Homo sapiens: one gene and its partners. The protein of the gene in region 7 purifies or fractionates together with the protein of the main gene of each other region. This does not show direct contact. Each region holds a gene or a part of one and is shown on either strand. Other genes may lie near its edges.

Evidence for each region.
Region 1: the proteins of ANO7 (region 7) and DDX52 purify together in Homo sapiens (affinity purification with mass spectrometry, with the first as the bait; one large-scale study listed by BioGRID). This does not show direct contact.
Region 2: the proteins of ANO7 (region 7) and COPG1 purify together in Homo sapiens (affinity purification with mass spectrometry, with the first as the bait; one large-scale study listed by BioGRID). This does not show direct contact.
Region 3: the proteins of ANO7 (region 7) and CS purify together in Homo sapiens (affinity purification with mass spectrometry, with the first as the bait; one large-scale study listed by BioGRID). This does not show direct contact.
Region 4: the proteins of ANO7 (region 7) and THOC5 purify together in Homo sapiens (affinity purification with mass spectrometry, with the first as the bait; one large-scale study listed by BioGRID). This does not show direct contact.
Region 5: the proteins of ANO7 (region 7) and ARPC2 purify together in Homo sapiens (affinity purification with mass spectrometry, with the first as the bait; one large-scale study listed by BioGRID). This does not show direct contact.
Region 6: the proteins of ANO7 (region 7) and TIMM44 purify together in Homo sapiens (affinity purification with mass spectrometry, with the first as the bait; one large-scale study listed by BioGRID). This does not show direct contact.

What each region holds. Positions count from the first base shown.
Region 1 is NC_000017.11:37,636,453-37,640,721, reverse strand, and holds part of DDX52 (probable ATP-dependent RNA helicase DDX52), read left to right. Parts: intron 1-1,153; exon of another isoform or gene 1,154-1,268; intron 1,269-4,269.
Region 2 is NC_000003.12:129,255,611-129,259,879, reverse strand, and holds part of COPG1 (coatomer subunit gamma-1), read right to left. Parts: intron 3,813-4,269; coding exon 3,726-3,812; intron 2,411-3,725; coding exon 2,253-2,410; intron 2,154-2,252; coding exon 2,020-2,153; intron 1-2,019. UniProt on the Homo sapiens protein: The coatomer is a cytosolic protein complex that binds to dilysine motifs and reversibly associates with Golgi non-clathrin-coated vesicles, which further mediate biosynthetic protein transport from the ER, via the Golgi up to the trans Golgi network.
Region 3 is NC_000012.12:56,275,990-56,280,258, reverse strand, and holds part of CS (citrate synthase, mitochondrial precursor), read left to right. Parts: intron 1-4,063; coding exon 4,064-4,263; intron 4,264-4,269. UniProt on the Homo sapiens protein: Key enzyme of the Krebs tricarboxylic acid cycle which catalyzes the synthesis of citrate from acetyl coenzyme A and oxaloacetate.
Region 4 is NC_000022.11:29,543,219-29,547,487, reverse strand, and holds part of THOC5 (THO complex subunit 5), read left to right. Parts: intron 1-2,884; coding exon 2,885-3,028; intron 3,029-3,945; coding exon 3,946-4,059; intron 4,060-4,269. UniProt on the Homo sapiens protein: Component of the THO subcomplex of the TREX complex which is thought to couple mRNA transcription, processing and nuclear export, and which specifically associates with spliced mRNA and not with unspliced pre-mRNA.
Region 5 is NC_000002.12:218,223,217-218,227,485, reverse strand, and holds part of ARPC2 (actin-related protein 2/3 complex subunit 2), read right to left. Parts: intron 1,567-4,269; coding exon 1,532-1,566; intron 1-1,531. UniProt on the Homo sapiens protein: Actin-binding component of the Arp2/3 complex, a multiprotein complex that mediates actin polymerization upon stimulation by nucleation-promoting factor (NPF).
Region 6 is NC_000019.10:7,936,888-7,941,156, forward strand, and holds part of TIMM44 (mitochondrial import inner membrane translocase subunit TIM44), read right to left. Parts: coding exon 4,215-4,269; intron 1,311-4,214; coding exon 1,140-1,310; intron 1-1,139. UniProt on the Homo sapiens protein: Essential component of the PAM complex, a complex required for the translocation of transit peptide-containing proteins from the inner membrane into the mitochondrial matrix in an ATP-dependent manner.
Region 7 is NC_000002.12:241,197,908-241,202,176, reverse strand, and holds part of ANO7 (anoctamin-7), read right to left. Parts: intron 2,890-4,269; coding exon of another isoform or gene 2,862-2,889; coding exon 2,754-2,861; intron 2,089-2,753; coding exon 1,952-2,088; intron 918-1,951; coding exon of another isoform or gene 880-917; coding exon 822-879; intron 1-821. UniProt on the Homo sapiens protein: Has calcium-dependent phospholipid scramblase activity; scrambles phosphatidylserine, phosphatidylcholine and galactosylceramide. Does not exhibit calcium-activated chloride channel (CaCC) activity. May play a role in cell-cell interactions.

The DNA of each region.
Region 1 (4,269 bases), on a different chromosome or scaffold from region 7:
GCCACCGCGCCTGGCCTTTTTTTTTTTTTTTTTTCTTGTACTGTACTCTAGGGCTGTTTATATTTTTTTAATCTATAATATTAAGTTTCCTAGTCATTTACCTTTTTTTGGTAAACACTTGAGTTATACAATGATGAAAAGTAAAGTTCCTTCCTACTGTTTCTCTCCAGTCCCCTGTTTCTCCACACGCAGCTACTGTTAATCAATTTCTTTTGTATTTTTCTGGGGACACTATTCCTATGTATTTATGCCTGACTCAAAAAAAAACAAATACTCCTCATACTTTGTTTATATACTTTGATTATTTTATATACACTCTGTTGGGAACCTCTGCTACTACCTTCCCCTTTTTTAAAAACAATGTATCTTGGAGGTTGTTTGGAATCAGTAGGAAGTACATTGCCTTGTTCATTTTAACACAGCATTGTATCCCATTGTGTGTATTGCATAATTGATTTAACAAGTTCCTGTGTGATGGATAATTATAGTTTGTTTTCACATTTTTGCTGTTGTAGTTTTGCAGTGTCATTCTACTTATCTTTGCATGTATATGTGAGTATATCTGTCCCATAAATTCTTAGAAGTGGAATTGCAGAGTTAACAAATAGATGTATCCACCAGAAACACTGCATCAGTAGGAAGTACTTTGCCTTGTTCATTGTAACACAGCATAGTAGCCCATCATACATTGTAGGGATGCCCCATGATCAATTTGACATGTTACTGTGTGGGCATTTAGTACATTGTTTGCATGCTTTTGCTGTTAAGTGCTGCAGTAAAAGTCATTCTTCCCTGGCTGCAAGGAAGTTTGATAAAACCTTTACCAATAAGAAAGACACGCCACAAACTTAGGAAAAGGATTCAAATTTTGGGCCACCAGAAATATACAGCTATGTACTGTAACCATTGTGGCAACAAATGTATTTAGGCCGTAGATCTATGATAAATGTGTAGGCATGTATCAATTTTTTTTTTTTTTTTGAGACTGAGTCTCACTCTGTGGCTGGGGCTGGAGTGCAGTGGCGCGATCTTGGCACACTGCAAGCTCTGCCTCCTGGGTTCACGCCATTCTGCTGCCTCAGCCTCCCGAGTAGCTGGGACTACAGGTGCCCGACACCACGCCCAGCTAATTTTGTTTTTGTATTTTTATTAGAGACAGGGTTTCACCATGTTAGCCAGTATGGTCTCGATCTCCTGACCTCGTGATTCACCCACCTTGGGCTCCCAAAGTGCTGGGATTACAGATGTGAGCCACCACGCCCAGCCAGGCATGTATCTATTTTTAACTGGAAAATTGAATAGCTTGTGAATTAGTAATGATTTGGGTCATTTAGTACCAACTGTCTCATAAAGGGAACAAAATTTTTTTAAAGTTATTCTACTTTGCGATGCCTTCCAGCAAGGTATGAGACTTTTCTCTTTTTGTAAATTTGTCTCTTCGTGTACGTTGTACCCTTATTGTATTACATTGTTCCCTTATCATATTACGTTCTTCTGTTTCTTCTTAATTTATTAAACCTCATATATTGAGGAAATTAGCTCTATGTCTGCCATATTATGTTTACAAATATGTTTCCAGATTGTCATATGTCACTTGTCTTATTTATTTACTTTTTGGCCTTCTGCGCATTACGTTTTTTTAAAATTCTAGGCTGGGTGCAGTGGCTCACTTCTGTAATCCCAACACTTTGGGAGGCGGAGGCGGGCTGACCACTTGAGGTCGGGAGTTTGAGACCAGCCTGGCCAACATGGTGAAACTCCGTCTCTACTAAAAATATAAAAAAATTAGCCAGATATGGTGGTGCACGCCTGTAATCCCAGCTATTTGGGAGGCTGAGGCAGGAAAATCGCTTGAACCCAGGAGGTGGAGGTTGCAGTGAGCTGAGATCATGCCTCTGCATTCCAGCCTGGGTGACAGAGCAAGACTCTGTCTCAAAAAAAAAAAAAAAAAGAAAAAAAACAACTTCCATGTTTTCTTATTTGTAGTTTCAATTTGTTATATTAAAATCTTTGACCCTGTGAAATTTTATTTGGTATAAGGAGTGAATAGGGAACTAAAATTTTTTTCAGATGTCTGAATAATTGTCTTAATAACATAATTGTCTTAATACCATATGTTGGTGTTTTATCTTATGTTGACTAATTGTCTTAATACCATATGTTGATAATCCGTGTTTTCTCTATTGGACTTTAACGCAACTTTAATTGTATACTTATTTTCCATATACATTCAAGTCTGTCTCTGGACCTCTTCTATTCTGTTTCTGTATTTGTACACCAATACTAGCTTGTTTTAAATACTATGGCCTTATATGTTATAAAATCCAGTAGAGTGGAGAGGCATACCAATATTTTAGGCAACTCAATGTTTTCTCCCTACAGTGATCTACAGAATCATTGCAATCCCAATTAGAATTCTAGCAGAATTTTTTTTGTAGAAATTTCTACTAAAGCTTTGGCTAACTTTCTTCAGACACTCTCATAATAAGCAGATACTACTCTTTGGCCTTCCAGAAAGTCAACAAGTGAAGTGCCTTGAGCATCCAAAAAACCTGTTGCTGTTGCCTTTGCTCTTGACTGGTCAACTTTTGCTTTGACTGGACCACTTCCACCTCTTGGTAGCCATTGGTTTAATTGTGCTTTGTCTTTATGATCAAACTGGTAAAACCATGTTTCATCTTCTGTTACAGTTCTTCAAAGAAATGCTTTAGGACCTTGATTCCACTTGTTTAAAATTTCTTTTGAAATCTCTGCTCTTGTCTGCAGCTGATTTGGGAGCAGTGGTTTTGGCACCCATCATATGGAAAATTTGCTCAACTAATTTTTCATTAAGAATTGGTGGGAAGAAGGCTGGGCGTGGTGGCTCATGCTTGTAATCCCAGCACTTTGGGATGCCGAGGTGGGTGGATCACCTGAGGTTAGGAGTTCGAAACCAGCCTGGCCAACATGGTGAAATCCCGTCTCTACTAAAAATACAAAATTAGCCGGGCGTGGTGGCGCATGCCTATAATCTCAGCTACCTGGGAGGCTGAGGCAGGAGAATCGCTTGAACCTGGGAGGCAGAGGTTGCAGTGAGCCGAGATCACGCCATTGCACTCCAGCCTGGGCAACAAGAGTGAAACTCGGTCTCAAAAACAAACAACAAAACAAAGAATTGGTAGGGAGGCCAGGAGCAGTGGCTCACCTATAATGCCAGTGCTTTGGGAAGCTGAGGTAGGAGGATCAGTTGAGGCCAGGAATTTTGAGACCAGCTTGGGCAACATAGCAAGACTCCATCTATACAAAAAATAGGGCCAGGAGCAGTGGCTCATGCCTATAATCCCAGTACTTTGGGAGGCTGAGGTGGGTGGATCACCTGAGGTTAGGAGTTCGAAACCAGCCTGGCCAACATGGTGAAACCCCGTCTCTACTAAAAATACAAAATTAGCCGGACGTGGTGGCGCATGCCTGTAATCTCACCTACCTGGGAGGCTAAGGCAGGAGAATCACTTGAACCTGGGAGGCGGAGGTTGCAGTGAGCCGAAGCCGAGATCACACCACTGCACTCCAGCCTGGGTGACACAGTAAGACTCCAAAAAGAAAAAAAAAAATTAGCTGCACGTGGTAGCACATGTCTGTAGTCCCAGCTACTTGGGAGGCTGAGACAGGAGGATTGCTTTAGCCCAAGAGTGTGAGGTTACAGTGAGCTGTGATCATGCCTGTATACTCTAGCCTGGCTGACAGAACAAAACCCTATCTTGAAAAAAATATATATGTGGTGTAAGCCAAACCATATATATATATTTGGGATTACAAGCATGAGCTTGTAATTGGTTATATACACTCAGATGTCTGTGGTGTTGGCTATTGTTTCTGCTGTTAATCAACAGTCCTCTTCAATTAGGGCATGAACAAGATGAATTTTTTCCTTATAAATTGATGCGGGTGGTCTGCTGCTACAGACTTCCATCTTCAATATTATCTTGTTCCTTCTTAAAACAAGTTATCCATTTGTAAACAGGTGATTTCTTTGTCCCCATAAACTTTTCATAAAGCATCAGTGATTTCACTATTCTTCTACCGAAGCTTCACTGTAAATTTGGAGTTTGTTCTTGCTTCAGTTTTAAGCAGAATTCATGTTGCTGTTTTCAAACTGCTGTCTTATCCTTCTTAGTGTCTCAGACTAGATCTAGTTCACCCGTATTGTAACAAGTTGGTATGAGTTTATTTTGGTGCAAAAAATTTTGAAATTTTTGCATAGTTTCTTCATAATACGGATTTTCCATGAAC
Region 2 (4,269 bases), on a different chromosome or scaffold from region 7:
TCTCTCCTACTGTGTCTACAGGATCCAACAGAACTTCCCCCTTGGCACCAAGTGCTGAAGAACAAAGTCCTCTCTTAAACAAATGGTTTATTTCCTTTAACTAGATGAGAGCCATTCGGGTACCATATCCCTCCCTTGCCCTGGCTGCCCGGAAGCTCAGAGCTAAATTTGGCACTCAATCATAGGAGCGAAGATGACTACTGTTTTCTGGAATATCTATGTTCCTTTCTTCATAACTTGGCTTTTATTCTCTAATACTCAAAAAAAATTTTTCTTAATGCTTATTTTGAAGACCCTACTTTATTTACATCTTTCATTATTCTGGAAATATGGGGGATATAATAAGAATGAATGAATACCCAAATCAGTGACTGAATTCATTAGTTCTTTTTCCATTTCTTTTTTTTTTTTTTTTTTTTGAGATAGAGTCTCCCTCTGTCGCCCAGGCTGGAGGGCAGTGGCGCGATCTCGGCTCACTGCAACCTCCACCTCCCAGGTTCAAGTGATTCTCCTGCCTCAGCCTCATGAGTAGCTGCGATTACAGATGCGCACCACCACGCCCGGCTAATTTTTGTATTTTTAGTAGAGATGGGGTTTCACCATGTTGGTCAGGCTGGCCTCGGACTCCTGACCTGGTGATCCCCCTGCCTCGGCCTCCCAAAGCGCTGGGATTACAGGCGTGAGCCACCGTGCCCAGCAGTTCATTCTTTCTTCATTTCTAAGGAGGAAAGGAGACTTCTCTCTCCAAACATGAACTCCATCTGTTTGCCTGACCAAGTTTACACTGTTATAGTAGAGAATAATAGAAAAACAAGAGGCCCAATCATTTCTCAAAACCTGCAAATCTAACTCTCCTGCCACAACATCTTTGCTTTCCATGGGCCTGTTCTAAAACACTCCCCTCTTCTCTTCCACTTTGAATCCAGGTTTCTCACCCTAAGCACCTCTCCTTTTCTAGCCTCTCAACATATCCACTTTCCAGTACCAACCACTTTGCACCTCTTCATAGGCTTTCTCCTCCCTGACAGGGTATTCCCACACCCAGAGCAGGGCCCTGCACAGAGGAGACACCAAAGACTCCAGGACTCAAGGCTGCTGGATTCCCCTTAATAACAGCAAACAACGGCTGGGCGCAGTGGCTCACGCCTGTAATCCCAGCACTTTGGGAGGCCGAGGCGGGCGGATCATGAGGTCAGGAGTTCGAGAACAGCCTGGCCAATATGGTGAAACCCCATCTCAACTAAAAATACAAAAATTAGCCAGGCGTGGTGGTGGGCGCCTGTAGTCCCAGCTACTCGGGAGGCTCAGGCAGGAGAATCGCTTGAACCTGGGAGGCAGAGGTTGCAGTGAGCTGAGATCGCACCACTGCACTCCAGCCTGGGCGACATAGTGAGACTCCGTCTCAAAAAGCAAAAACAAAAAACAGCAAACGGCAAACAACAAACATGTTGCCTTCTAAGCAATTTGTCTAGATCACACATTTTCTGGCTATATAACCCTATGTAATAGGCATGATCTATCATCCACATCTGAGAAAAGAAAAGGAAGGCATGGAGAGGATGGGCGGCCTTGCCAGGCTTGCCCAGTTGGTAAGGGGCAGAGCCAGGGCTCTAACCCAGGCTGCCCTGCTCCAGTGCTGGAGCTGGAGGCTCAGAACGACCCTCTATACTGTTCTCTCCTTCACCTGGAAAAGTGCAGCCCCACTTCACATGCACCAGTTTCACAGATCCTGGGTTCCTCCACCAGGCCTCCTCCTGTGGCCAGCCAACCTGACAGGCTCCAGAGTGGACCCGAGCCTTACCTCAGCCTCTTCAGCAGTCAGATGGAACTAACAGCAGCCCACCACCAAAACGTGATACAAGTGGGGACTCAGCATAGTGTCTGGGGCAGGTGCTTCCTAGGTACAGACTCCTTAACACTTGTTAAGAGCATTTTCTTTCTTTCTCCTAGCCCGGGAACCCAGGCCTAGTTCCCAGCAAGCATAAACATGTGAGGCTGGGTGAAGGAATGCCCAGTGACCTGACACAGCCGGGGCCAGCTCTTTGGCACTGCAGCCTGGCAGATTGACGATGGCCGAGGCGGCTTCATACACCACCATCTCGTGCTTGTTGCGCAAGCAGCTCTCGATGAAGTCAAACAGTGGGCTGTCACGGCTACAAAAGAACATAGGGTGGCAAGAAAACGTTGGGGGTGGCCCAGCATGGTAGGATGAGTGAGGCATCATCTAGCTGGTGAGAGATGAGAGCCGTTACCTGCCATCCTCCTCTTCCAGCTGCTTGCTGGCCACCCGGATCATCATGCAGTAGGCAAAGGGAGACTTAAGGCCATGCCGTGTGACCTTGCTGATCATCTTATTGACGGCTAGGCGGTCATTCTTACGCACATGGTACAGGAGCCCTAGTGCGTGGTACTATAGGACAGGAGACAGCAACAGAGTACAAATGTATGACTTTTGGGTATACTGGCTGTGTGGCCCTGGGTGGGTCCTTCAGCCTTCTCATTTCTAAGATGGGCACAGTAGCAGCTACCACACAGAGTGGCTGTGACAACTGCCCCAGGTACTCTGTGTACACAGCCCTCCACACAATGCTTCACAAACCACAGAAGTATATCTGTGGTTCTTGTTCCCACCCCTGCTTCGGCAAGAGCCCTAACAGGTAGCATAAATACAGATATGGAAAGGGACAACAAACAGCACAAAGATGAAAGCAATGTGGGAGACCTGGTGCTTTCAATCAGACAATGAGAGAGAGAAGGTGGGAGCCAGACCCTGAGCATTGTCATGTTTTGTAAGTCACTGTGTGGGACACCTTAGCCATGAAATCTTGCATTACCCACAACAACCCTGAAGGTAGACAGTTTAATCTTTGCTGACTTGCCCAAAGACTCCTGGCTGGTACTGACAAAGCTAGGCCTGGAGGGCCAGAAGCCCAGAGACTCCCTTTCTAAAGATGTGAGGTCTCATAGTTATTTCCTGTCCTCGATACTCTCTTTTGTTTCCTAAAGGAGCGACATTTGGGGGCAAAGATATGGCAGCTGTGGAAGCCTTCTATGTGGGAAGCTTATCTGGCCCTCATAAGTGTTTTGAGGGGCCACAGCTGGCCCTGAAGACAAGAATCGTGCAAAGGATGAGAAGACAGATGAGAGATAAAGGGAATACATAAACACACAGGGAGCGCCGATAGGCACTCATGACCCAGATGGGTCACATGTTACATGCATGATCTCAGCTCGTCCTTGCTGCTTTGTGAGGCAGTAACCTTCATTCGTATTTTACAGACAAGGAAACCAAGAGCCAGAGAGATAAAAGGAACGGCTGTCCTAGGTCACTGAGGAAGAGTAAAGTGGATGAAAGCCTCATCAAGATAATTCCACACATCATAACAAAGCCAGGCTGGCAAAGGCCTAAATTTAGGCGGCCCTCTGCCTGCCTTGGCCAAGTTTGCCACATCATATGCTCCAAAACAATACTCAGCTGGTTATCAAAATACTTGAATATTTCAGCACCAGCTGGTAAGCAGTCTGTAACCCAAGCGCCCCAAGTGGTACCCTGGATTCTCTAACCCAGGACCTCCTAATTCCTCCCATGATCCAATGACGAAAGGATTAAAGCCTGCTATGGCCAGGGGTCACAAGGATCTCGGTGGCAAGTGTCCATGCCAACTGGCCAGTGCCTTACCACCTGCCTGAGTGTTTTAAATATCACTCCCTTGCTCACATCTCACCTGGACCATGATGTTATCACTGGATGCTGCCTCCTGAGCCTCATTCACCCAGCGCTTGACCACGTCAAAGCTGCACTTCAGCAGGTGCTGTGGGCAACAGGACACATTAAGGGGCAGGTAGGAAGTGTCCCCATCACACATTCTGGGCCCAGTTCTGGTCTTCCCTCAGACACAGCTCAGGGGCTCGCCACTGTCCTGGTCCTCAGAGACCATGGACAAACTCAGGATGCTCCCACCCTCAATGTCCCTCCCCAAGGCATGGGTCAACACCATCCACCCACGACTCTCTTCAATCACCCCAGAGTTTCTTGGCTGTCTTCACTGAGAAGGGTGGGACTCTCAGGCTTACAGATACAGAAATACTTTATTTTGGCCAGGTGCGGTGGCTCACGCTTTGTAATCCCAGCACTTTGGGAGGCCGAGGCGGGTGGATCACTTGAAGTCAGGAGCTCAAGACCAGCCTGACCAACATGGTGAAACTACGTCTCTACCAAAAATACAAAAATCAGTTGGGCGTGGTGGTGCACACCTGCAATCTCAGCTA
Region 3 (4,269 bases), on a different chromosome or scaffold from region 7:
TATTTTTAGTAGAGACAGGGTTTCACTATGTTGGCCAGGCTGGTCTCGAACCTCTGACCTCGTGATCTGCCCACCTCGGCCTCCCAAAGTGCTGGGATTACAGGCTTAAGCCACCACGCCTGGCCTTGTCTTTTTAATAGAGTTTCACCATGTTGGCTAGGCTGGTCTAGAACGGCTGGTCCAGAACTCCTGACCTCAGGTGATTCGCCCACCTCTTCCCCAAAGTGCTGGGATTATAGGCGTGAGCCACCACCCTGGGCCTTTTTGTTTGTTTGTTTTGTTTTGTTTTTTGAGATGGAGTCTCGCTCTGTTGCCCAGGCTGGAGTGCAGTGACACAATCTCAGCTCACCACAACCTCTGCCTCCTGGGTTCAAGCGATTCTCCTGCCTCAGCCTCCCCGGTAGCTGGGACTACAGGTGCGCACCACCACGCCTGGCTAATTTTTGGTTTTTGCTTTTTTGCTTTTGTTTTGTTTTTTTTTGGTTTTTTTTTTGAGATGGAGTCTCGCTCTGTTGCCCAGGCTGGAGTGCAGTGGTGCGATCTCAGCTGATTGCAAGCTCCGCCTCCCTGGTTCAAGCAATTCTCCTGCCTCAGCCTCCCGAGTAGTTGGGACTACAGGCACCCGCCACCATGCCTGGCTAATTTTTTGTATTTTTAGTAGAGTCGGGGTTTCACCGTGTTAGCCAGGATTGTCTCGATCTCCTGACCTCGTGATCCACCCGCCTCAGCCTCCAAAAGTGCTGGGATTACAGGCGTGAGCCACCGCGCCTGGCCTTGTGTTTTTAATAGAGACGGGGTTTCACTGTGTTGGCCAGGCTGATCTTGAACTCCTGACCTTGTGATCTGCCTGCCTCGGCCTCACAAAGTGCTGGGGATTATAGGAGTGAGCCATGGTGCCCAGCCTTCTTGAGCTTTTAAGGAGTTGTTTTTACATATACCTTAAGAGGATGATCTTCTGCACAGAACATTTCTTCTATAATAATTTCCATTAACTCTAGATGAATAGTGTAATCTCTTGAGTTGAAAGAGTTTAACTAGCTTCTAGGCCTCTAATTGACTTAAGGTCACTCAGAACAAGGAGATTGATTGCTCTGATGCAACCAGCTGTTTAATTGTGAAGTAGCCTTAAGCTGTTGAATTTAGTCAAATTTGTGAAGTAGCTGACAGATCAAGTTTTGCTAGTAGGCCAGGCGTGGGGACTCATGCTTGTAATCCCAGCACTTTGGGAGGCCAAGGCAGGCAGATCACTTGAGGTCAGGAGTTCAAGACCAGTCTGGCCAACATGGCGAAACCCCATCTCTACAAAATAATACAAAAATTAGCTGAGCGTCCTGGTGCACACCTGTAATCCCAACTACTCAGGAGGCCGAGGTGGGAGAATCGCTTGAACCTAGGAGGCAGAGGTTGCAGTGAGCCAAGATAGCACCACTACACTCCAGCCTGGGTGACAGAGCGAGACTTTGTCTCAAAATAAAATAAACCAAAAATATATGCTTTTTATTTACCAACTTTTTTTTTTTTTTTCCGAGACAGAGTCTCTGTCGCTCAGGCTGCAGTGCAGTGGCACGACCTCGGCTCACTGCAACCTCCGCCTCCCAGGTTCAAGCAATTTTCCTGCCTTGGCCTCCCGAGTAGCTGGGACCACAGGTGCAAGCCACCACGCCCATCTAATTTTTGTATTTTTAGTAGAGATGGGGTTTTGCCTTGTTGGCCAGGATGGTCTTGATCTGTTGACCTCTTGATCCGCGCTCCTCAGCCTCCCAAAGTTCTGGGATTACAGGTGTGAGCCACCGTGCTTGGCCTGTTTATCAACTTTTTAAAAAGTGACATGGGCTGGGTGCAGTGGCTCACGCCTGTAATCTCAGCACTTTGGGAGGCCGAGGAAGGTGGATAACCTGAGGTCAGGAGTTTGAGACCGGCCTGGCCAATATGGTGAAACCCCATCTCTACTAAAGATACAAAAAATTAGGCATGGTGGCGCACGCCTGTAATCCCAGCTACTCAGAAGGCCAAGGCACAAGAATCGCTTGAACCCCGGAGGCGGAGGTTGCAGTGAGCTGAGATCGCACCATTGCACTCCAGCCTGGGCGACAGGGTGAGACTCCGTCTCAAAAAATAAAAGTGGCATGAGTTAATAATGTAAGCTAGGTAACGCTTCTTGGCTACATGGGTGACCTTGTGCAAGTTAACTTAGCTAAGCCCCAATTTCCTCATTTATAAAAAGAGGTATATGTTACCTTACAGGATTATTGTAAGAAAAGAAAAAGTAATACTGCAAATAGATAGCACAGTACCTGTTGCATAGTAAGTGCTTAAAGAATGGAAGCCTCGGCCGGGTGCGGTGGCTCACTCCTGTAATCCCAGAACTTTGAGGGGCCAAGGTGGGCAAATCACCTGAGGTCGGGAGTTCAAGACTAACCTGACCAACATGGTGAAACCCCCCTCTACTAAAAATACAAAATTAAGCCAGGCATGGTGGTGCATCCTGTAATCTCAGCTACTCAGGAGGCTGAGGCAGGAGAATGGCGTGAACCCGGGAGGCGGAGCTTGCAGTGAGCCGAGATCGCGCCACTGTACTCCAGCCTCGGCGACAGAGCGAGAATCCATCTCAAAAAAAAAAAAAAAAAAGAATGGAAGTCTTTGTTATTAAATAACAATTGCATATCACTGTTTGATCCTTGGCACATACAGTGAATTTTCTTTGAAAGATGGAACATAGAATTCATTATTAAAACCTAGTGTCTTTTTTTTTTATTTTTTGAGACGGAGTCTCACTCTGTCGCCCAGGCTGGAGTACAGTGGCACGATCTTGGCTCACTGCAAGCTCCACCTGCCAGATTCACGCCATTCTCCTGCCTCAGCCTCCCGAGTAGCTGGGACTACAGGCGCCCACCACCACGCCTGGCTAATTTTTTGTATTTTTAGTAGAGACGGGGTTTCACCGTGTTAGCCAGGATGGTCTCGATCTCCTGACCTCATGATCTGCCTGCCTCGGCCTCCGAAAGTGCTGGGATTACAGGCATGAGCCACTGTGCCCGACCCCTTTTTTTTTTTTTAGACAGAGTCTCGCTCTGTGGTCCAGGCTGGAGTGCAGTGGCACTATCTCGGCTCACTGCAACCTCCACCTCCCGGGTTCAAGCAATTCTCCTGCCTCAGCCTCCCGAGTAGCTGGGATTATAGGCGCCGGCCCACACCACGCCTGGCTGATTTTTTGTGTTTTTAGAAGAGACCAGGTTTCACCATGTTGGCCAGGCTGGTCTTGAACTCCTGACCTCAAATGATCTGCCAGCCTCAGCCTCCCAAAGTGCTGGCATTATAGGCATGAGCTGCCGTGTCTGGCTGTAAAACCTGCTGTCTTAACACATTGAACGTCAAGTCATGGTGTAGTGAAAAAGATCATGATTAAACATATCAGAGGGCCAGGCATGGTGGCTCACACCTATAATCCCAGCACTTTGGGAGGCCAAGGCAGGCAGATCACCTGAGGTCGGGAGTTTCTAGACTAGCCTAACCAACATGGAGAAACCCCGTCTCTACTAAAAATACAAAATTAGCCGGGTATGGTGGCACATGCCTGTAATCCCAGCTACTCAGGAGGCTGAGGCAGGAGAATCACTTGAACTTGGGAGGCGGAGGTTGCAGTGAGCTAAGATTGCGCCATTGCACTCCAGCCTGGGCAACAAGAGTGAAACTCTGTCTCAGAAAACCATATCAGAGTTCAAACTTGACTTTAGCATTTAACCTAATACTATGAGCCTTAGTTTACTCATCTTTAAAATGGCAGTCATTATATACTTTGTAGTAGTAAGCATTGGGAATAATGTTTTAGTGTACATTAGATAGTATTACAAATCACTTAGTGCCTGGGTCATAATAGTTATTCAGTGAAATGGTTATGATTGTTATTCTCTACTTTCAAACATACTCAATATATAACAACCCATCATATAACTAACCATCAACCCAAATAGCCCCAATTCATGGAGGACAGACGATATCCCTGCCTAATTCTTCTTTGCTGATAATTCCTTTTTTTTTCTCCATCTTGCTCCTCTTCTGTCAGTTGATTTATGAAGACTCTATGGATCTAATCGCAAAGCTACCTTGTGTTGCAGCAAAGATCTACCGAAATCTCTACAGAGAAGGCAGCGGTATTGGGGCCATTGACTCTAACCTGGACTGGTCTCACAATTTCACCAACATGTTAGGCTATACTGATCATCAGTTCACTGAGCTCACGCGCCTGTACCTCACCATCCACAGGTAAGC
Region 4 (4,269 bases), on a different chromosome or scaffold from region 7:
GGGAGGCTGAGGCAGAGAATTGCTTGAACCCAGGAGGCAGAGGTTGCAGTGAGCCAAGATCATGCCACTGCACTCCAGCCTGGGTGACAGAGTGAGACTCCATCTCAAAGAAAAAAAAAAAAGTTGATAATGATATGAACAATAAGGTCCAGCCTGAGGTGGTCTCAGATGGAGATGAGGAACTTATTGGAAACTGCAGCAAAGGTGACTCTTGTGTTTTAGCAAAGAGACTGAAAACATTTGCCCCTGCCTTAGAGATTTGTGGAACTTTGAACTTGAGAGAGAGGATTTAGGGTATCTGGTGGAGGAAATTTCTAAGTAGCAAACCATTCAAAAGGTGACAGGGCCATGTGCAGTGGCTCACGCCTATAATCCTAGCACTTTGGGAGGCCGAGGCAGGTGAACCACTTGAGGTCAGGAGTTTGAGACCAGCCTGGCCAACATGGCAAAACCCTATCTCTACTAAAAATACAATAAAAATTAGCCAGACATGGTGGTGGGCCCCTGTAATCCCAGCTACTTGGGAGGCTGAGGCAGGAGAATCGCTTGAACCCGGGAGGCAGAAGTTGCAGTGAGCTGAGATTGCGCCATTGCACTCCAGCCTGAGCAACAAGAGCAAGACCTTGTCTCAAAAAAAAAAAAAAGAAGTGACTTGGGTACTGTTAAAAGCATTCCATTTTAAAAGGAAAACAGAGCATAAAAGTTTGGAAAATTTGTAGCCTGATGACACAGTAGAAAAGAAAAACCCGGCTGGGCACGGTGGCTCACGCTTGTAATCCCAGCACTTTGGGAGGCCGAGCTGGGTGGATCACTTGAGGTCAGAAGTTCGAGACCAGCCTGGGCAACATGGTGAAACCCCATCTCTACTAAAAATACAGAAATTAGCCGGGCCTGGTGGCAGGTGCCTGTAATCCCAGCTACCCACTGTAATCTCCAAGCCTGAGGCAGGAGAATTGCCTGAACCTGGGAGGCAGAGGTTGCAGTGAACTGAGATCATGCCACTGCACTCCAGCCTGGGCGACAAGACCGAGACTCTGTCTCAAAAAATAAAAATAAAAAATAAAAAAAGGAAAGAAAAACCCATTTTTTGCGGAGAAATTCAAGTTGGTTGCAGAAATTTGCATAAGTAGCAAGGAGCCTAATGTTAATCCCCGTGGGGGATTAACACCATGGGGAAAGCGTCTCCAGGCCATGTCAGAGACCTCACGGCAGCCCCTTCCCTCACAGGCCCAGAGGCCCAGGAGGAAAAAGTGGTTTTCTGGGCCAGGCCCAGGGTCCCTGTGCTATATGCAGCCTAGGGACTTGGTGCCCTGTGTCCCAGCCAGTCCAGGCATGGCTGAAAGGGGCCAATCTAGAGCTTGGCCTGTGGCTCAGAGGGTGGAAGCCCCAAGCTTTGGCAGCTTCCAAGTGGTGTTAAGCCTGTGGGTGCACAGAAGTCAAGAATTGAGGTTTGGGAACCTCCGCCTGGATTTCAGAAGATGTACGGAAACACCTGGATGCCCAGGCAAAAGTTTGCTGCTGGCGCGCTCATGGAGAACCCCTGCTAGGGCAGTGTGGAAGGGAAATGTGGGGTCAGAGCCCCCACACAGTCCCTACTGAGGCACTGCCTAGTAGAGCTGTGAGAAGAGGGCCACCGTCCCTTCAGACCCTAGAATGGTAGATCCACGAACGGCTTGCACCATGCACCTGAAAAAGCTGCAGACACTCAATGCCAGCCCATGAAAGCAGCCAGGAGGGAGGGAGACTGTACCCTGCAAAGCCACAGGGGTGGAGCTGCCCAAGACCATGGGAAGCCACCTTTTGCATCAGCTTGACCTGGATGTGAGACCTGGAGTCAAAGGAGATAATTTTGGAGCTTTAAAATTTCACTGCCCTACTGGATTTTGGTCTTGCATGGGCCCTGTAACGCCTTTGTTTTGGCCAATTTCTCCCATTTGGAATGGCTATATTTACCCCCACTGTATCTACGAAGTAACTAGCTTGCTTTTGATTTTACAGGCTCATAGGCGGAAGGGGCTTGCCTTGTCTCAGATGAGATTTTGGACTATGGACTTTTGGGTTAATGCTGAAATGAGTTAAGACTTTGGGCGACTGTTGGGAAGGCATGATTGGTTTTGAAATGTGAGGACATGAGATTCGGAGGGGCCAGGGGCGGAATGATATGGTTTGGGATTTAAATCTCAACTTGAATTGTATTTCCCAGAATTGCCACATGTTGTGGGAGGGACCCAGAGGGAGGTAATTGCATCATGGGGGCCAGTCTTTCCCGTGCTATTCTCATGATAGTGAATAAGTCTCACGACATCTGATGGGTTTATAAGGGGTTTCTGCTTTTGCTTCCTCCTCATTTTTCTCTTGCCGCCGCCACATAAGAAGTGCCTTTCACCTCTCGCCATGATTCTGAGGCCTCCCCAGCTATGTGGGACTGTAAGTCCAATTAAACCTCTTTTTGTTCCCAGTTTCAGGTGTGTCTTTATTGGCAGCGTGAAAATGGACTAATGCAGATGGGAAGTTGCACTTAACAGCACGGACAGTATGATCCCGTTTTGTTTACAAATAAAATGTTTATTTATCCACAATCTTCACTCAGTTTCGGACTGAGAGGCGAAATTATAGGCAATTTTTCCATTTTCTTTTTGATACTCCTCTGTATATTCTGAATCTTTGATACCAGGCATGCATTACTCTGCAATCAGAAAGCAAAAGAGGTTTCTATTTTGAAGAGAAGAAAAGCATTTAATTTAAGGACCAGATCTTTTAGAGACCTGACTGAGGCTTCATTGTTACTGTTTTTATCTAAAAGGAGATGTCAGCCAAGTGTCCCTGATCCCAGCAGGGAGACTTTTACCCCATGCACACAGAGCCTTTATCCTTACCTCTACAGGAAGGTAAATACTACAGTGAGGAGGCCGAGGTGGATCTGCGGGACCCTGGCAGAGACTATGAGTTATACAAGTACACCTGCCAGGAGCTACAGAGGCTGATGGCTGAGATCCAAGACCTGAAGAGCAGGGGTGGCAAGGATGTGGTAAGGAGTGGGACCAGGTGGCCGTGAACCTGGTGGGTTTACATAGATGAGGCTGTTTTTGCACCTACCAGGGCCCTTCCTGATCTTGATCTTCTGTCCTAGCCATGATCAGGTGATTGGAGCCTGAGGGCTCCCAAAACCTGTGAATTTATTGGAACTTCTTATCACCATTCAGTCACCAATTACAGGAATGAAAGTACAGGATAATTAATTTTTTCCCTACTAATTTGATCATTCATCCAATTAATATTTATTAAGTGCCAGGCATTTTGCTAGGTGTTGAGAAATGATGGTACTTATACATTTGCTTGATACAAAGATGGATGTGTACAAGTAAATTGTAGATACCAAAAATGAAATTATCATTAATAGTAAATGAATAAATGAGGTTTTAGGGGCAGAGAAATTAAACAATGTGACTAAAAACTCGATAGATAAGTTTTTTAAAATCCATTTTTTCCCCCAGGAATCTCACGTATTTGTGCTTATGCTGACAAGTTTTGTTAGAATTATTGCATTCAATCTATTCTAGCCAAGCTTTATGGCTATAATTCTGTTATTTTCCATTTAAGTTATCCTGTAATGTTATTTATAGAGGTCAAATTTTATGACAAGATGTTACTATTGCTGGGATCTCTGTGTAGGATCTGTAGAGATAGATTGTGCCTTTGCTGCCCTTATTCCATCTTCAATTCCTGTTACTCTAGTCCAAGCAGAAATTACTTTTTTTTGCCCGAGATTCTTAATCATTTTCCTTATACAATCATCCTCTTATTTTCTTCATGACCCTTCTCATGGTTCTGAGCTCCCTCCGGTGCCGTTTTTGGCCCCAGATGAGGATGGGTCAGTGGTGAAGGACTGAAGGAAGCTGAGCTAGCCCTGTCGTCAGTGGGCTTTACTGTTTTCTTTGCCCACAGGCAATAGAAATAGAAGAACGGAGGATCCAGAGCTGTGTGCATTTCATGACTCTAAAGAAGCTTAACCGATTAGCCCACATCAGGTTGAAGAAAGGAAGAGATCAGACCCACGAGGTAGTAGTTAAAAGGTTTAATTTTAACCTTCCTCCTTCCTCCTCCCCATCCCCTTCTTTTTTTTTTTTTTTTTTTTTTTTTGAGACAGAGTCTCGTTCTGTCCCCCAGGCTAGAGTGCAGTGGCACGATCTCAGCTCACCACATCCTCTGCCTCCCAGCTTCAAGCGATTCTCCTGCCTCAGCCTCCTAAGTAGCTGGGATTACAGGCAC
Region 5 (4,269 bases), about 23 Mb from region 7:
CGCCACTGCACTCCAGCCTGGGTGACAGAGTGAGACTCAGTCTCAAAAAAACAAAACAAATATTCAGTCAAGTATTTAAATATTCTCTACTGTCTCAAAAAATTTTAAGCATTGTTGTCTTATTTGAATTAAGATGCAAACAATATCCACACATTGCATTTGGTTATCTTTTGAGTTGCTTCTAATCTATAGGACTCCCCTCTTTTTCGGTTCTATCTTTCTGCAGTACACAGGACTGACTCAGCCTGTGTAATTCCTGAAACTAGGAATAGGTTCCTGAAACTAGAATTAGGTGCTGAGTGCCATCACTTTATGGAGCTGTCATGGGAATCACGAAGGGATATCTGGCAATGCCAGTTAGTAGGAGGGTAAAGGGATGGTGCCTGGCCTCCAGGTAACAGCACTTCAGAGCTGCAAAAGTCTTCCAAGATCATCTTGTCGAGGACTCTTGTTGTAGAAAGGGTGGTTGTATTCCTCTGAGTTCATTCACCTAACAAGTAAATAGTACCAACACCTAATTCTTTATAGGGAACAGAAAGCAGCAACATCTCTCTCTGACTTGATGAACACATCTCTAGCTGTTCATGTTTCCCTACTACTCTAGTGCTAGGCAAACTAAGACTGACAGCTACTTGAAGATAATGTAATATTTCCAAATTAAAAAAAAAACACAACAAAAAAACCTCAGTTTTACCACAAAATTAAATCCAAACTTCTAATTTATCAGCAGGTAACTTTATATTGTCAGTCATCAGTGGATTAAATACATGAAATGGTCATCTATTATAAAGAGCTCAAAAAGACCTGATGAGGGACAGTATCCAAAATGTCAAAGCTTTTTTTTTTTTTTTTTTTTTTTGAGATGGAGTCTCACTGTCGCCCAGGCTGGAGTGCAGTGGCGCGATGTCTGCTCACTGCAAGCTCCGCCTCCTGGGTTCATGCCATTCTCCTGCCTCGGCCTCCGGAGTAGCTGGGACTACAGGTGCCCGCCACCATGCCCAGCTAATTTTTTGTATTTTTAGTACAGACAGGGTTTCATCATGTTAGCCAGGATAGTCTCGATCTCCTGACGTCGTGATCCGCCTGCCGTGGCCTCCCAAAGTGCTGGGATTACATGCATGAGCTACCGCACCCAATCCATGTCAAAGCTTATTTTAGGTACAATTTTCTTTTCTTGTCTCTCTCTTTTTTTTTTTGAGACAGTCTCACTGTATCGCCCAGGCTGGAGTGCAGTGGTGTGATCTCAGCTCACAGCAACTCCTGCCTCCCAGTTCAAGTGATTCTCCTGCCTCAGCCTTCCGAGTAGCTGGGATTACAGGTGCCCACCACCATGCCCGGCTAATTTTTGTATTTTTAGTAGAGGGGGTTTCACCATGTTTGCCAGGCTGTTCTTTAACTCTTGACATCAGGTGATCCACCTGCCTCGGACTCCCAAAGTGCTGGGATTACAGGCATGTGCCACTGCACCCAGCCTATTTCCTATTTTTCATATTGTACCTTCTCTTCAGAGGGCTGAGATAAAGATGCTTACCTGCAAATGTTACTTCTACTGCTTCCGGTTTGTTTCTGTAAACAACAAAAAAGGTCCTCAGTTAAGATGACTGTATTGCTGCTTACCTTCAAAGGGAACTGGAAAGGCACCTGAGCTTCACTTAAGATCAGACCATTCTGTATAAATTTTAGGTTACTGCCAATCAGAGTACACAATTCATTTTCTCATGGACCTGAACCTTTGGACTTGCTTTAAGTAGAGGATAAAAAAGGAAGGTCAGATAAAAAAGGAAGGCCAGCTATAGCTTTTGTTTTTCACCTGCTGTTGAATCTACTGCTTTGGTTGGTGCTCACTTTCAATTCTGAATTTCCTAACAACATGCTATATACCACAAAATGCCATCTTTTGGTCAATGCCTTCCCCACAGGACAGTGGTATTAGGAGTAAAACGTTCAGCAGGAAAATGGCTAAGTATAATGTAGAATGGTTTTAATATGCTTAAAGAGAAAGGATGATTTCGGGCCATAAACAAAACGGCAAGTTCTATTCCACTTCAAAACCCGTCTGTAAGCCTTCCTACTCATCTTTCTTTCTTCCTTTACATCACCAAAGTACTTACCACTCACCTTCAAGAAACCCTCTTTAGTTCTACCCTAGTTTTGTCTTGCTTTGTAAATTCCAGCTCGGAACTTAAAATAGACAGTGTAACACAAAATAACACTATGAAATCACTAAGAATAGTCAGGACATCTGCTTTACAACTTTAGCTTTCTCATCACGCTCATGTTTTGGGACAAATACCCTTACACCTTTGCATTCTCCCCTATCATCAATAAAATGGGGGAATAAAAATGAACCTATTTACCTCATGGAACTACTACATATAACACAAGAACAGACCTGAAGTCCAAAGTAGGAAGCAAATGAAGACTATTGCCTTACCAGCTAGCTACCTGTAAACTCAATGATTCCACTTTGTTTTAGGGGCTAGCAAACAAGATGCGCATGTTTTCACATTTATTTTTGTCTAACTTGCTCAAGACCTCTTAATCAAGTACGTATCTTTCCACGATCTCTGCTCCATTACCTGCGAAAGAAACGAAGACTAAGTTGCTCTCCAGGGATGCTGGGAAATAATGGAATATATAACATGGTTTATGAGTGTTAAAAAGCTGATATAGAAGCCAGACAATACCTTTCAAAAAAACTGGCTTCTATGAAGCATGCTAGCCCTGCTGAAAAATCAACCTATACGAATCATACAAAGCTTCACCTTGCTTCTTCAAAGCCCTATATGTGACTTAGGAAAAGCGCACTGGGTATCTCTACGAATTGAAGTATCAAGTGGGTTTACGGAGAAGCAGAGAGTTCAGAATAGAAGGAAAAAACTAGATGAAAATTTAAATTGCTTCTGAGCCTTCATTTTGAAACTGTAGCCAGGAAACAAAGGCAACGAGTCCAATACCATTCCTCACCTCTAGAAAACAAGAGCAAAGAACAAAAATATGGAAATGTTAATCATGGACCAACTGAATGAAATATTAAGAGGATGACCAATGGGAGGAAGCATGGAAGCATACTTTCCTGGGGAAGGCTGACTGTGCTGAAGAGTCAGGGAGTTTATAAAAGCCCATTATTACATCACTTAGTAAGTTTTTTTTTAACCTTTAGGTTTTAATTCAGCCAAAGAAGGGCTGAGTTCCTCACTCTCCTACTTTGTCAAAAGACCTGAGAAAAACCAACTATAAATAAATAACCTTTGGGCTCCAAGTCATACACACTTTGAGTCTCTAATTTCAAATTTCTCTAGGCATAAAGTATCCTGAGCACAGATCCTTGTGGGAAAAGTTGCTACGATCGATCTTAAGTGGTCTGCTGTCTGACTTAGCAATATTTGTCAAATCACATTCATTAATATTTTAGTTTACTATTTATGGCTAGAAGAGAGAGAATGGCTGCTGAGGAGAGTATTAGGCCAAAGGAGACTTCATGGGAAGTCTTCTGGGAGTTAGAGGTCCGAGAACTCAGTGCCTTAACGATGAGTTTGCTGAGCGTGAAGTATACCATCACAAGATTGCTTCTCAATTCCAAGACCTGGCGTTTGTTATTTTACTTCTGTGGTTTAAAATTACAAAGGAGCGGGAGGAAGACTGGCCCAGGAAAAGTGTTCCACTAAATAGGCCCCCAGAATTAATAGTTACATTATTTACTGTTCTACCAGCTGCTAAAATTTCAGATGCTGGGGGTGAGAAAAAGCAAGTTATTTAGAATTCAGAATTTATTGGCTATGTGACCACAGGCAATGCTCCTCAAATGTCACCGGGCCTCAGGTTCCTCTTCTACAAAATGGGGACAAAACATCTACCTCCCAGGTTGGTGTGAAGACTGAGATGATATATGTCCAGCAGTACAGCAGTCTCCCCTTATCTGTGGGGGATATGTTCCAAGACACCCAGTGGATAAATAAAAGTGTGGATAGCACTGAACTGTAGCAAAGAAACACCAAGGTCACTTTTTTTACTTAAAGGAATCACTTCATGGGTTCTCTTTGGCATATCCAAATTGCCAGCATCATTACTCCTGTACTTTGGAGCCATTATTAAGTAAAATAAGGGTAACTTGAACACAAGCACTACAATGCTGTGACAGTCAATCTGATAACCTAGACAGCTATTAAGCGACTAACAGAGGGTAGCGTACACACTGTAGATATGCTAGACAAAAAGATGATTCATGTCCTGGGCGGGACAGCGCAAGATTTCATTATGCTACTCAGA
Region 6 (4,269 bases), on a different chromosome or scaffold from region 7:
GTCAGGAGTTCAAGGCCAGCCTGGCCAACATGGTGAAACCCTGTCTTTACTAAAAATACAAAAATTAGCTGGGCAGTAGTGGTGTGTGTCTGTAATCCCAGCTACTCGGGAGGCTGAGGCAGGAGAATCGCTTGAGCCTAGGAGGCAGAGGTTGTGTTGAGCCAAAATCGTACCACTGCACTCCAGCCTGGGCAATGGAGTAAGACTCTGCTTCAAAAAACAACAACAACAACAACAACAAATCAGCTGGGTGTGGTGGCGGGCGCCTGTAATCCCAGCTATCCGGGAGGCTGAGGCAGGAGAATCAGGAGCTGGAGGTTGCAGTGAGCCAAGGTCACGCCACTGCACTCCAGCCTGGATGACAGAGCAAGACTCCATCTCATAAAATAAAATAAAATAAAATAAAATACCAGCACCATCACCCAGTTTCCACCAGGCTCCACTCAGAGGGCTACAGCTGGGAGCTCTCAGGAGCGCTGCATCCCATAGCTGGTGTGCATGCGTTGCCTGGGGGCCTGTGAAGATGCGGGCGCTGGCCTGGCAGTTTGGGAGGGTGTGAGCCTCTGCACTGCTCATCCACTCCCAGGAGGAGCCACTGCTGCTGGTCTGGGGACCACGCTTCAAGCTGCACAGAACGCTGCATGGTCTCATGGCAGAACCCAGAGGCCTGGAGACCCGCACCTGTCCCCTGGCTCCCTCTCATTAGTGCATCAGAGCAGTGACCTCACTTCCTCACGAGCCACCCTGCCCCCAACCGTCCAGCCCTGAGCTCCTCTGGCTGTCCCTGGCCTGGAGAAACCCTGGCCCTGGAAACAAACATGTCAACCAAGAAAGGTAAGAAGCAAAGGGGCCCAACGCGGTGGCTCACGCCTGTAATCCCAGCACTTTGGAAGGCTGAGGCGGGCGGATCACTTGAGGTCAGGAGTTCGAGACCAGCCTGGCCAACATGGTGAAACCTCTTCACTACTAAAAATACAAAAATTAGCTGGGCGTGGTGGTGCGCGCCTGTAAGCCCAGCTACTCAGGAGGCTGAGGCAGGGGAATCACTTGAACCTGGGAGGTGGAGGTTGCAGTGAGCCGAGATCGCACCACTACTCTCCAGCCTGGGTGAGGGAAAAAAAAGCAGCAAAGAAACTCACGTATTTCCTTCTGGCCTCCTGGAGCACGTCTGATTCTTCTAGCCTTCTGGCCTCGTCACGGAATTTTTTTATACTTTCTTTCATTTCTTTGTTTTTGGCTAATTCTTGTTTGACATTATCTAGCAAGCCGGACAGAAAGCCTTTTCTGTTTCCAGAAGAATATGATTTGGACTAGAAAGAATGTACAAGAAAAAAAATTTAAAGAACATAGTAGAACATAGAATGAAATGCCCCACAGAGGGACTCAGGGATTTTTTTAAATGTTCTCTTTTCGGTTGATATACATTTAATGATGATTAGCTATCTCTTTTATAATAATCATAAAAAACAAAGAAACAGCAGGTGATAAAAGTGTGGTATATCCAGACAACAGAATATTATTCAGTGCTGAAAAAAAAATGAGCTCTCAGCCACTTTAGGAGGCTGAGGAGGGAGGATTGCTTGAGGTCATGAGTTTTAAGACCAACCTGGGCAACACAGCACCCTATTTAAAAAACAGGCTGGGCGCGGTGGTTCACGCCTGTAATCCCAGTACTTTGGGAGGCTGAGGCGGGCAGATCACCTGAGGTCAGGAGTTCGAGACCAGCCTGGCCAAAATGGTGAAACCTCATCTCTACTAAAAATGCAAAAGTTAGCTGCGCATGGTGGTGTGTGCCTTTAGTCCCAGCTCCTCAGAAGGCTGAGGCACAAGAATTGCTTGAACCCAGGAGGAAGAGGCTGCAGTGAGCCAAGATTATGCCACAGCACTCCAGTCTGGGTGACAGAGCGAGACTCCATCTCAAATAAAATAAAATAAAATAATTTAAAAAACAAGCAAGAAATATGCTCTCAAGCTGTGAAAAGACACAGAGGAACCTTAAATGTATATTGCACTAAGTGAAAGAAGCCAATCTGAAAAGGCTACATACTGTCTGATTCCAACTATAGACCGTTCTGGAAAAGGCAAAACTAAGGGGACAGTAAAAGATCAGTGGTTGCCAGGGGTTTGGTAGGAAGAGGGTGAGATGAGTAGGGGGGAACACAGAAAAATGTTAGGGCAGTGAAACTACTCTTATGATACTGTAATCACAGAGAATGTACACCACCAAGAGGGAACCGGAAGGTAAACCATGCATTTATTAATAATAATGTATCAACATCCTGTCAATTGTGACAGATGCTCCACACTAATGCAGGACGTGAAGAATAGAAAACTGTGTGCCAGATGGGAGAGGAGGGGCATGGCAACTCTTTGGACATTCTGTTGGATTTTTCTGTAAACCTAAAACTGCTCAAAAGATAAAGCCTTGTGAAAGCAAAACAAGGCCGGGCGCAGTGGCTCCTGCCTGTAATCTCAGCACTTTGGGAGGCCAAGGTGGGTGGATCACTTGAGGTCAGGAGTTCCAGACCAGCCTGACCAACATAGTGAAACCCCCGTCTCTACTAAAAATACAAAAATTAGCTGGGCGTGGTGGTGGGTGCCTGTAATGCCAGCTACTCAGGAGGCTGAGGCAGGAGAATCACTTGAACCCAGGAGCCGGAGGTTGCAGTGAGCCAAGATTGTGCCACTGCACTCCAGCCTGGGTGATGGAATGAGACTCCATCTCAAAAAAAAAAAAAAAAAAGCAGGCTGGACACAGTGGCTCATATCTGTAATCCTAGCACTTTGGGAGACCGAGGTGGGCGGATCACTTGAGGCCAGGAGTCCGAGACAAGCCTGGCCAACATGGTGAAACCTTGTCTCTACTAAAAATACAAAAATTAGCCAGGTGTGGCGGCGCCTGCCTGTAGTCCCAGCTACTGAGGCAGAGGCAGGAGAACTGCTTGAACTCGGGAGGTGGAGGTTGCAGTGAGCGGTATCTCGCCCCTGCACTCCAGCCTGGGCGACAGAGTGAGACTCTGTTTCAAAAAAACAACAGAGAAACAGTTTAATGAATGATCATACAATAATCCAATCAGGCGGAAGGGGCCGCCTGTGGTCAACTTTTCCACAGCTGTGTTGGGTATACCAGCTCCAGGTGGGATCCCCCTCCCTGGCTCCTGTCAAGCTACAAGAGAAAGCTGCATCCAGCCTGGTGCTCAGGCCCCGTGGAGTCACACACCTGTGGTCCCAGCTACTCAGAAGGCTGAGGTGGGAGGATCGCTTAAGCCCAGGAGTTCAAGGCTGCAGTGAGCCGTGATAGTGCCACTGCACCCCAGCCTGGGCCACAGAGTGAGACCCTATCTTAAAAAAAAAAAAAAGCCCAGTGCTGCTCCCCAGGACAGGTGGCCAGGCCTCCTGTCAGCAGGCTGCAGTCCCATTCAGATGCCACCCTGGCCAGCCTTTCTCCAGGGGAAACCCAGGTTCTAAGTAAAATCATCCAGGACCACACAACCTTATCGCAGCCCTACCAGAGACTCTTGGGCTACAAACCATGGGAGTGAGTGTGTGGCGGGGGACTAGACAAGAAAGGGAAAGAGTCACAGGTCCTGTCCCACACCCACGATGGCCCCAGGACAGGACTGGAGAGGTAGGTAGCTGCCTCCAAGGAGGCAGCTGAGCTGAGGCTCTGGGCGCAGAGAGAGAGGGAGACAGAATGTACGCGCTGCCCGAATGTACAGGTCTGGGGAAGGGAGTCAGGTTTTGGGCTTCTGTCCTCACGATGCTGAGACACCAACAGAAGCACAGTTGAAGAGGAATGACCAGGAGAAACTGAGGTCTGGTTGTGACAAGGTGACTCTGTACCAATGATCAAAGGGCTATCTTCTAGAAAAGGAAACAGCTATGCTTGGTGAGGTACCCACGGGCAGAGGTCACAGGGAAGTAGAATTCAGTTCAATACAGGGGTCTCTTCCAAGCATTAGAGCCAACATAAAGGGCTATTCTGACAGCACCTTATCCCCTTACGACATCAAGCAAGAGGCAGGTCAAGTGTTTCTGGGACCGAGAAGGCCAGGCACACTGGGATCTGTCATTCTGAAAGCCCCGGACACAGAAGGCCCACCACCGAGATGGTACGAGCCACCTCTACAGCCCCACCCCTCCCTCCTGCCAATGGGATCTGAATTTTCGGGCCTCCCCTGTGTCTGCTGGCCCGAGCATCCTGAGTCACTCACCAGTGGCAGCTCTCCGCCCGGCCGGCGCATCTGATAGGTCGACCCATGGGGTAGG
Region 7 (4,269 bases):
GATGGCGCAGGTCACTTGTCACGTGATAGCAGAACAGGGAAGTCCTAGCTAGCCTGTCTTTAGGCCAAGGCCATGGACGGCCTCCCTCAGCCTTCTGGTGACAATAGCGATCTGATGGAAAGGCTTGGGACTTTGTGTCACCACCGCACATGCACATGCAGGACGCCCCTGTGCCAGGGTAGTGCTCATTCTCCCACTGTGCAGGCTCAGAGTCCTTGACCAGAGCCACACGGCATGTGGGAGTCGAGTCTGCACCTGAAGCTGGGCCCCTGCCTGGCCGTGCGCAGCCCACTCTGGACCTGCACCCTGGGTGACGGTGAACACTGCAGCCTGGCAGCTGTGTCCAGGGTGTGCCCTGCCCCCTACCTGGGCAGCCACGTGACTGTGTGCCCTGTGGTGGTCAGCAGGGCCTCTCTTGGGTAGGCCTCAGGAACAGGCCTCCTGCCGGGTGCCTTGGGCCTGCCCCGCCTGGGGCCACCCTTCCTCCGACGCTGCAGGGCAGGTCTGCTCCCAGCCGGCAGGACCCACCCTGCCTGGGGCTAGTCTCGGCTGTCCCACATGTCCATAGATCCAATATCTATTTTGAGCCCTGGGGTCCCGGAGGGGAACTGGGCCCTTCCCCACCCCTTCCCAATCCCAGGTCATGGCCTGCCCTGTGTAGCGAGGTGAGGTCAGCCTCTAAAGTTTCCAAAGCCTCCGGGCTCCAGGCCTCGGCCCTCTGGTCTCAAGCAGGCCTTTCTGCATCCATGGAGGCTGGGGGCTGGCAGGATCCTCAGAGCCAGGTCAGGGTTTGGGGCCCGCGGCAGGGAACCCCCACTCACAATTTGGTGCCTCTTGGTGCTTGTGAAGAAGGTGTCCTGGTTGTCACTCCCGAGGAAGCTGTGGGCATGTGAACAGTGCAGAAGGTTTGGAGGAAGCTGTGGGCATGTGAACGGTGCAGAAGGTTTGGAGGAAGCTGCGGGCATGTGAACGGTGCAGAAGGTTTGGGGCCCGGGTGCTGGCGCGCACGCAGAAGCACAGGCCTGCGGACACAGCCCTCGCCCCAGGAGAAGCAGCTGGCTCCCCGGCAGGTCAGCAGCTCCCGATTATGCCTTTTCACATCCCCAGGAACAGGAGGCCACAGCAGGCCCCCAGATACCCAGAACCCCTCACCACACACAGGGTGGGGGGAAGCAAACTGTGGTTGGGCACAGGGCAGGGCGGTGTAGAGAGGGCCAGGCTGGCCAGGGAGCCCCATCCCGTGTGCCGCCCTGAAGCTCCGTCATGGGGCCGAGGGTGCTCGTGGGCAGTGCGGACAGTGACTGGGTAGGGGCCCTCCCTGGGAAACCAGAATCTTGGGAAGCCATAGGTGGGGCAACACGGAGTGAGGCTGAATTTCCCACCAGCCCCAAAAGGAGGCATCCCGTGTGGCAGAAAGGCCGCCTTCAGCACTGGTTCCCCGACAGTGGTCCCTGCCACTTCTGGACTCCCCTAGTCTGTAGGCCTGGTGCCATAGTGCAACTGGCTTTGTCCAGTAGTAATGTGTGTGGACGACACACGTGTCGTTTCCAGGAGGGAGCCAGCATGGGCCAAACGTGTCCCTGTATTCTACCTCCACAGTTGGGGACGCTGTGACGAGACAGAGCCTCCATCGCCCGGGCCCTGAGAGACCGTGGTGAGCAGGTACCGCGCCGCCCCACCACACGTGTGCCTGAGCAGGAACTAGACCTCGCGTGTCCAGCCACTGGGCCTTGGGGGGGTTATCTGTCCTGCAGCACAACCGCCCCAGCCCGGCTGACGCAGCGGCATTTGGAAATGCAGACACGCGATAAGCGTGCGCACCTGGCCTCAGATTCCCTGCCGAAAACTCCAGGTGAGGAGAGTCCTGGGGAAGCACCAAGTTCCGCTCACTCATTCACCGACTCCCACTCACTCCTGTTCTTTCCTCCGACTGGCAGGGCCCCTGCCTTACCGTGGCAGCTTGTTCACTCTGAACCGGCAGGAGTAGTACTCGGGGGGTACGTCTGGCACAACCTCCAGCAGGACGTTGGGGATGCCCAGCCATGCCAGCAGGCCGGCCGACCAGTTGGAGGCCTGGTTGGGTAACTCCTGGAAGGAAACGTCAGTGGCTCCTCCCACTCCCGGGAGGAGGGCAAATGCCCCAGGTGGGAGTGGAGGTTGTGCAAGTTTGCAAATTGGGCAATGGGCGAAGGGGCTCCAGCAGAGGGAAGGAGCGTGGTAGACCCTGTGAGGGCCCAGGTGAGCCCCTTCCCCTCTCAGGGCCTCAGGCTCTGAGGCTGCTCAGCTTGTCAATTTGTAGCCCAGAGACCCTCAAGTGGAAAAGGGGTGGGAACTGGTAAGTAGCGTGTCTCCCACCCGCACGCAGTGAGGGTCAGGCCAGCCAGTGCGGTGGGAGGCGGACCCACGTCCAGGCCCATCTTCCTGAGGTCACCTGGAGGCAGCCTTCTCCACCCCATGTTCATAGGCAGGGCCCTCAGCAGGTGGCCTGGCGGGGGTCTGGGCCTGGAGGGGCCAGCTCAGTGCACACGCACTGTTCACCCGACCCCACCTCCCGGGAGCCCACTGTGGGGGATGCCACCACCTGCCCTGTTTGCCCAGTGAGGTTTCTTGGGGCCTGGTGTCGGGGTGGGTAGGAGGAGCCCCTGAGGCCTCTGAGCAGGGAGCCCTCCTGAGGCTGTCGGCACTGGCAGCTGAACGCAGTGTGTGGGGACCGGGACCTCCAGGCCCACCCTGTCCCCATGCCTCCCACGTACCTGCAAGGGCAGCTTCAGGCGCAGGTCTTCGGCGTAGTAGCAGAGCACAGCCCAGGAGGCGCTGAGGAGGGCGTAGTGCACTGTGGTGTTCCCGTCCTGGACGTCCTGCTGTAGGCACCCAGGGCTCCGTGAGAGCCTGAGGGTGCATGTGTGCACGTATGCACATGTGTGTGTCCATTCGCACTCTTAGGAAAAGACTGGCATTTCTGTAGCCGTGGTAACAGCTGACTTTGAATCTCCTATTTGATACATGACACCTACTCCCATGGATACGCCTCTGAAAGCCAACCGGGCCTCGACAGCCCCGTTTGGGAGTCGGCCCCAGCAACAGATTTGCTGCAGACAGCATGCTGTTGGGACCGGCGTCACCTGCAGCCTCCCCTAAGGCTAGGGAGAGCCTTGCCCTGCTGGCCAGACTATGCTGACACACGCCTGCCTCCTGGCTTGAGGGGCAGTGCCTCCAGCTTTTGGTTTTCAACATCGAACGTCGCCTCACCTTTGATCGGTCACCAGGTGTACATGCATGCTGTGCACGGACATGTTTCCGTGTGTATGTGTGTGTACATATAGGTGAGCACTACTGTCTATGTTCACATGTGCACATGTGTGCCAACATGTGACAGGTGCTCCTGGAGCCCGGGGTGGGTTGAGACAGGGATCTGATTCAGTCCAGTGCAGAAGTGCCTCCTCTGAGTGCATAACTGCTTTTCAGCACCATCCCATTTAGTCCAGTGGTCCTCAGCCCTCACAGCCATCTGGGGTTCCCTAAGTGCCAAAGTCCCGGCCCCACCTTGGGCGAAGTGGAACAGAGTCAAGGGCAGACCCTGGCCCCCAGCTGGCCGTGATGTTCTGTGAGAGCTGAGAACTGTCCTGCAGACCGCAGACCAGGCACACTTTGGGCAACGTGCTGGGGCCACCGGCGTCCCCTGCAGTAGTCCCCCCTGCCCTCAACTAAAGGGCAAACCTGCTCGAGTCTGGATGATGACCTTGAAAACTCATGGGACCACGCCACCCAATCAGCTCTGTCCATAATAAAAGCAGGTGTCTTTCACCTCCACCTCCCAGACACTGAAGCAGATCCAAACTCAGGAGTGGGGTGGCTGTTAGCTCTGTGGGCTCCATGTGCCAACACCTGAGAAGGACTGGAAGGAAGCCAGGGAGAGCGGGGCAGGGAGGGGCACCCTGGGGTGGGGTGATGTGGCAAGTAGGGGCTGCTCCCTGTGTGTTCTGGACAAGGAGTAGGCAACGTGGGAATGAGAAGGTGGGTGAGGGAAGAAAGGCACGGAAGGTGGAGGGGAGTCGGACGCAGGACTAACTCAGTCCACAGCAGGTTAAAACCAACCAGGACACCATCATGACCAGGACAGCCAGCCAGGACTGGGGAAAGATGTCTGTCACACACGCCACCAGCAATGGCTAAGTGTCCAGAACAGACAACAAGCTCCTAAGCCTTAATAAGGAAGAGGGAGGTGAGGCCGGGCGTGGTGGCTCATGCCTGTGATCCCGGCACTTTGGG